Linked DNA regions of Homo sapiens. The protein of the gene in region 1 interacts with the protein of each later gene in a biochemical or structural test. Each region holds a gene or a part of one and is shown in the gene's direction. Other genes may lie near its edges.

Region 1 (3,820 bases):
GCCTTGCCTGGTCCTACAAATGTTTAACTGGAAGTGGAAGTTTAGCTTTTGGAGTTTTAAAAAGTTATACTGAATTTATATTCTGCTGTGATTGTACAGTGGGTAGTACTCTGTTTTGTGAATTTATATTCTTTCTTTCTTTATATATTTTTTTGAGGCGGAGACTCCCTCTGTCGCCCAGGCTGGAATGCAGTGGGGCAATCTCGGCTCACTGCAGCCTCTACCTCCCGGGTTCATGTGATTCTCCTGCCTCAGCCTCCTGAGTAGCTGGGACTACAGGCACTACCACCACACCTGGCTAATTTCTTTTTTTCTTTTTTGAGATGGAGTTTTGCTCTTCTTGTCCAGGCTGGAGTGCAGTGGCGTGATCTCGGCTCAGTGAAACCTTCGCCACCCAAGTTCAAGTGATTCTCCTGCCTCAGCCTCCCAAGTAGCTGGGGTTACAGGCACCTGCCACCATGCCCAGCTAATTTTTAAAAAAATTTTTAGTAGAGATGGGGTTTCACCATCTTGGCCAGGCTGGTCTGGAACTCCTGACCTCAGGTGATCCTCCTGCCTCGGCCTGCCAAAGTGCTGGGATTACAGGCATGAGCCACCGCGTCCGACCTGAATTTATATTCTTTAAATGCTTTCCAATATTTAAGATATTTTCATATTTCTGCCTAGCAAGCTCATGCAGAAGTCTACTTGGTTATTAGTGTTTTTAGAGTTTTAGAAAATTTTCAGTTTTGAGCTAATTATTAACTTTAAAAACCAATTTTAAAACAAGACTGTGATTAGATATGTGATGTATAATTAAATCATTTGGAGCATTCACATCATTATGTATTTAGAAATAAACATACCTTTTTTTTTTTGAGATAGGGTCTCCCTCTGTTGCCCAGGCTGGAGCACAGTGGTGTGATTATGGCTCACTGCAGCCTTGACTTCCCAGGCTCAAGTCAGCCTCCTGAGTAGCTGGGACTGTAGGCACATGCCACCGTGCCCAGCTAATTTTTTTTTTTTTTTTTTTTTAAATTTGAGACGGAGTTTCACTCTTATTGCCCAGGCTGGAGTGCAATGGTGCGATCTTACCTCACTGCAACCTCTGCCTCCCAGGTTCAAGCGATTCTCCTGCCGCAGCCTCCTGAGTAGTAGGATTACAGGCATGTGCCACCACGCCTGGCTAATTTTGTATTTTTAGTAGGGACAGGGTTTCTTCATGTTGGTCAGGCTGGTCTTGAACTCCCAACCTCAGGTGATCCGCCTGTCTCAGCCTCCCAAAGTGCTGGGATTATAGGTGTGAGCCACTGCGCCTGGCCTAATTAAAAAAAATTTTTTTTTTTTGTGGAGATGGAGTCTCACTGTATTGCCTAGACTGTTCTGGAACTCCTGGGCTCCAGCAGCCCTCCCAACTCGACCTCCCAAAATGCTGGGATTACAGGCATGAACCATTGCACCCAGCCTTGATTTATTTAGATGAGGTAACACAAAAGAGTTGCATTTAAAATTTTTACTTGTTAATTAAGTAAGCTGTATATGTGATAAATAGGATGTGAACTGTTTTACTTCTCTGTAAAGAGGTAGTTTACTTGAATAGTGACAGGTGGATTAATAGGGCTTTGAAAGGGTATTTGATTTTTCCATAGTTCTTCGAATCTTAACATTTTAACACATTTCATTTTTCAACAGCTTGCTATGGCATTGTTCAAGTACCCACTGGACCGTGGTTTTGCAGGAAATGTGAATCTCAGGAGAGAGCAGCCAGAGTGGTAAGGACTATTTATCAAAAACATTAAACTTTAGTGAGTAGGTTAGGAAATTAGGAACTGCACTCCTGTTGTGGTTTGTGGGGTTGTCAGTCATTTCTTCAAATATCATAATGTAAGAGATAATTTAGGCCAAATATTGACTTGGAGTATTAAACAGATTTTGTAAAACTGAAAAACAAATGGAATCAAGTGAGTATATTTTGGATACTTTGAAAACAAAAATACATAGTCATATTTGGGCTTTGTTAACTAGTTACAGAATCAAGAAAGCTTGAAGAAGTTTGAAGGTTACACTGGCTAATCATAGTTAAAATATAATGGAAATAGAAACATAAGGAAGTTACATTGATAATTCTCTTAGGTTTTGTGTAATGGGAAAAAAACCCAATAATTTTAGTGACTATCATATTCCTTTTACTACATCTTTGGGTGTATAGTTTAACTTCGAACACTCACTGATTTCAGGCATTCAGTCCCTTTGGCAAACCAACATAAAAATCTTTTTTTTTTTTTTTTTTTTAACTTGGGTGGTTACCTTATTTCAGAACTTTTCTAAACCTCTTATAAGAATGAAGGAGGTGCCGGGTGCAGTGGTTCACACCTGTAATCCCAGCACTTTGGGAGGCCGAGGCGGGAGTATCTCGAGGTCAAAAGATGGAGACCACCCTGGCCAACATGGTGAAACCCCGTCTCTACTACAAATACAAAAATTAGCTGGGTGTGGCAAGCACCTGTAGTCCCAGCTACTTAGGAGGCTGAAGCAGGAGAATTACTTGAACCCGGGAGGTAGAGGTTGCAGTGAGCTGAGATGGTGCCATTGCACTCCAGCTTGGGCAATAAGAGTGAAACTCTGTCTCAAAAAAAAGAAAAACAAATTACAAACATTAGCTGGGCGTGGTGGCACGCCCTATAATCCCAGCTATTTGGGAGGCTGAGGCAGGAGAATGGCGTGAACCTGGGAGGCGGAGGTTGCAGTGAGCTGAGATCATGCCATTGCACTCCAACCTGGGTGACAGAGCAAGACTCTCAGGAAAGGAAAAAAAAAAACAAAAAGGAGGTAGGCCGGGTGCAGTGACTCACACCTGTAATCCCACCACTTTGGGAAGCCGAGGCAGGAGGATTGCTTGAGTCCAGGAGTTTGAAACCAGCCTGGTCAACTTAGTCTCTACAAAAGAAAAATTTTAAAAATTAGTTGGGGCTGGGCACAGTGGCTCATGCCTATAATTCCAGCACTTTGGTAGGCTGAGGTGGGCGGATCACTTGGGGTCAGGAGTTTGAGACCAGCCTGGCCGACATGGTGAAACCTATCTCTGCTAAAAATACAAAAAATTAACTGGATGTGGCAGCGCGTGCCTATAGTCTAGCTACTCTGGGGGCTAAGACGGGAGAATCGCTTGAATGAGGGAGCCAGAGGTTGCAGTGAGCCAAGATTGTGCCACTGCACTCCAGCCTGCACTCCAAACAGAGTGAGACTGTTTCAAAAAAAAAAAAAAATTAGTTGGGCGTGGTGGCTTGCACCTGTACTCCCAGCTACTCTGGAAGCTGAGACAGGAGGATTGCTTGAACCTGGGAGGTTGAGGCTGCAGTGAACCATGACTCCAGCCTGGGTGACAGAGTGAGAGACTGTCTCACAAAAAACACAGTGAGGGAGGTATGTTTATCCTTTGTATCCACAAGCATTTTTCCCATTTGGATTTCTGAAAATATCAGAAATAGATTTTATTTTCATTAGTTATGCAAACCTACCATTTAAAATATGATAGTTCCTTTTTAAAATCTTATTATATTTATTGATTTATTATTTATTCCAAGACATCTTGTTATAGCAAATTCCTTTCCCTTGGTGTTGATTATGGAATTAGACTGAAGGTAGAGAACAAACATTTTAGCTTCTTTACCTAGGCATATAGCAAAAGCAGAAGCTTTTGTGTTTGCCTGGGCAATTTTTGAGCGGTAGAAATAATGGGCTGGGTGCTGTGGCTCGTGCTTGTAATCCTTGCACTGTGGGAGGCCAAAGTGGGTGGATGACCTGAGGTCAGGAGTTTGAGACCAGCCTGAGCAACATGGCG
Region 2 (3,820 bases), on another chromosome or scaffold:
GCACTAAACTGGGAGTCTAAATATCTGGGTTCTGTTTCTGGATGTTCCCTGACTAACTATGATCTTAAGTGTATAATTTCATATATCTGACCCTTGGCTATTAAATGTTGGCAGTAATTCTAATTTTGCCTACTTTCACAGGATTATTGGAAGAATCCATTGAGATATGAGCATCTTTTCTAAGCAGCTACAGTGATGGAATCTGTTGTTATGATTGCTATTACCAGCTTATGCATTTTAGGAAAAAAATATATTTGGAGATATTTTGACCCCTATTTTTATTATCTTTTCTTCAAGAAGTACTAAGTTTAAGTAAGACTTAGAGAACTTGTTTGAAAATGGTAATGAATTAGTGAGTGACTAATAGGACAGAATACTATTGTTTGGTCAGAGATTATTTGATCAGCAACCGCAAAGATTTAGGCCCTGGGCTTCAAAACATTTTTTCTTCATTTTGAAATACAGTAAATAACAAAAAATTGGCAGCATTTTACTACGGTAATTTAAAAATTTTATGCTCTTAGGTATTGTATGTAGAACTAGAGAAAAATCAGAAGAATTTTCCCAGTTTTCAGAGGTCATTTGCTCTTACTGCCACTAGTGGATAACTGTTATCAGGCTGAGGGCTGTAACAGCAGAGGCAGGCCATTTCTGTCTTTATTCTTTATTATTCTCCTTCTGTTTAATCCATTCGTCTCTCCTTTTGGGAACATGCTGCTTGGGTGTGGCTAGGGGATGGTGGGATTCAGTCTTTGGACAAAAATATGATTCCTGGCCCATCCTTACTTTGCTATTTGTTTCATTAGCTGCACATAGCTGGAATCTATTTGAGAGATCATGTGTGAAGAATTTGAGGACAAATTGTTGGTGTAGCTATTTAAGACAATATTCAGAATGTGTTTTAGGTACTCAATCATCCTCTACCCACAGTACTTTAATGCTATCTGTGTACATGTTCTTGTGTGCTTGTATTTGCTGTATTTACTGGTTGAATTAATTGTAATGATTTTGATCCAGGGAAAAGATCCATCAACAAATTGGATTCTCCTGATCCCTTTAAACTGAATGATCCATTTCAGCCTTTCCCAGGCAACGATAGCCCCAAAGAAAAAGATCCTGAAATATTTTGTGATCCATTCACTTCTGCTACTACCACTACCAATAAAGAGGCTGATCCAAGCAATTTTGCCAACTTCAGTGCTGTAAGTACTGTGAATGAGCTGTTTGGGGGAGAAATCTTTAAAGAGTTTTCAGAGATTATTTTGGAGTCTGCCAAGTTTGCATCATTTTAACTAAATTTACCAAGATACTAAAAATGATCTTTCATTCTTCCCCCAAGCAAAACCTCTGTTTGATCCTGTTTTGACAGTTCTACGGTTGTTCCATCGCACAGATGATTTTAGTAGTCCCAGTTCTTGTCATATACACAAGTTGTTTTGTAAATCTTTCTCTTAGTCTTGGTAATGTAAGTAAAATCCTAACAGTTATTATTTTGTGGATGGTTATGGGTGATGGTGATTTAATGAACAATTACAGAGTCATTGCTCTCTGCCCACTAGATGAATAATGCCAGTAATAAGTTTGTGTATTTGCAGCTGTGTATGTGTGTTTGTGTATAAAGTTTTAATGATTTCTGGAGACCAGTCAGCAAATATTATATGAGAGGATAGAGCCAGAGATTCTTTGAATAGAAAGTAAAACTATTAAACTTACACAGTAGCTTTTTAAAAATGTAAATGCCAGTTTTATGAAATAAATAAATAAATGGTTGTCAGGATTTAAACAATCTTTATTTGGAGGGCCCTAATTCACTAACTTCTCATGTTTACTCTGCGTTCTTTCAGAGATGTCTAAAATAGGAAGATCGTTAGAAACAGTGGAAGGGTGCCATGATAACAGCATAAGCAGGGCCTATAAAATCACAGAAATGGGGCAACCAACCATGGAGGTATCAGTCTAGAGAGACATAAAGCAATGTCATATATTCCATCATTATTCAGTAAAAAAAGTTATTTTTTAATAAAATTCTTAGACCGGGTAACAAATTTTCAGTTTCACAGTTTTTTCAGGCAAAATAACCTTCGTTATCATTGCCTGTTCTATAAAACAGAGATTTTCTTCTATTTATCACCTTATGCCCTTGAGATGATTTTGGAAATAGATCTAGTGGCCAGGTAACTCTGCCTAATATTTCCCTCCTCAGTGTAGCATTGGGCCATTCAACCAATTGCTTTATTCCTGCAGCTGTTTCTAGTTAGAAGGGAGGTAGTCAAGAATCTGCATGCAGGCCGGGCGTGGTGGCTCACGCCTGTAATCTCAGCATTTTAAGAGGCCAAAGTGCTTTAAGCACCTGTAGTCCCAGCTACTTGGGGGGCTGAGGTGGTGGAGGTTGCAGTGAGCTGTGATCATGCCACTGTACTTCAGCCTGGGTGACAGAGCCAGACCCTGTCTCCAAAAAAAAAAAGAATCTGCATGCAACTAAGACGACTGAGCTCCCAGCTTTTGAATCTGTACTCTAAGTTCTGGTGGCTTCTCTTGACTATGAAGGAGCAAAATAGGAATCAATATTTTGAATATTGTAAAAATGGAGTGCCAGAATTATACTGATTTTTTTTTTTTTTTGAGATGAGTTTTGCTCTTATTGCCCAGGCTGGAGGCGCGATCTTGGCTCACCACAACCTTCACCTCCCAGGTTCAAGCAATTCTCCTGCCTCAGCCTCCCGAGTAGCTGGGATTGCAGGCATACCCACCACACCTGGCTAATTTTGTATTTTTAGTAGAGACGGGGTTTCTCCATGTTGGTCAGGCTGGTCTTGTACTCCTGATCTCAGGCGATCCACCGGCCTCAGCCTCTCAAAGTGTTGGGATTACAGGTGTGAGCCATCGCGCCCAGCCTTACTTAACTTTCCTTTTTTTTTTTTTTTTTTTTAAAGACAGAGTCTTGCTCTGTCGCCAGGCTGGAGTGCAGTGGCGTAATCTCAGCTCACTGCAACCTCCACCTCCCAGGTTCAAGCAATTCTCCTGCCTCAGCCTCCCAAGTAGCTGGGACTACAGGCACGCACCACCACACCTAGCCAATTTTTGTGTTTTTAGTAGAGACGGGGTTTCACCATGTTGGCCGGGATGGTCTCGATCCCTTGATCTTGCAATGTGCATGCCTTGGCCTCCCAAAGTGATGGGATTACAGGGGTGAGCCACCGCATCCAGCCCGACTTAACTTTCATTAGATGGAATTTGATTTGTTTCAAGCAGAGAATCAAAAATTGGCCTTTTTAGAAGGTTATAATTCTCTTAGTGTAAAATAACCCTCTGGTAGTTTGTGGCATTTAATATCTTAAGTATGGTTTTAGCAAGTCAAACTCTTGTTGGGGCCAGACGGGGTGGCTCACACCTGTAATCCCAGCACTTTGGAAGGCCGAAGCGGGCGGATCACTTGAGGTCAGGAGTGTGAGACCAGCCTGGCCAACATGGTGAAACCCCGTCTCTACTAAAAATACAAAAATTAGCCAGGCATGGTGGCGCATGCCTGTAATCCCAGCTAGGGAGGCTGAGGTGGGAGGATCACTTAAGCCCCAGAGGCAGAGGTTGCGGGAGCTGATATAGTGCCACTGTCCTCAAGCTGAGTTACAGAGCGAGACTCCGCCTCAAAAAAAAAAAAAAAAACAAAAAAAAACAAATCTGGTTGGAAGGAGTCTTGAACAACAGCTGAGGCATTTTGCTCCAAAATCTCAATATAGTATAATAAAAAACAGCTTATAATAAGAACATCTTCTTTTTTCATTGTGAAAGATGTGGTTAAGCATTACACGTTTCAAAGTTT

What was found.
Region 2: the proteins of MLLT10 (region 1) and EPS15 interact in a test that uses a peptide from one of them, tested with the Homo sapiens proteins (one large-scale study listed by BioGRID and IntAct).

What each region holds. Positions count from the first base shown.
Region 1 is NC_000010.11:21,537,162-21,540,981, forward strand, and holds part of MLLT10 (protein AF-10), read left to right. Parts: intron 1-1,671; coding exon 1,672-1,751; intron 1,752-3,820. UniProt on the Homo sapiens protein: Probably involved in transcriptional regulation. In vitro or as fusion protein with KMT2A/MLL1 has transactivation activity. Binds to cruciform DNA.
Region 2 is NC_000001.11:51,358,553-51,362,372, reverse strand, and holds part of EPS15 (epidermal growth factor receptor substrate 15), read left to right. Parts: intron 1-1,017; coding exon 1,018-1,202; intron 1,203-3,820. UniProt on the Homo sapiens protein: Involved in cell growth regulation. May be involved in the regulation of mitogenic signals and control of cell proliferation. Involved in the internalization of ligand-inducible receptors of the receptor tyrosine kinase (RTK) type, in particular EGFR.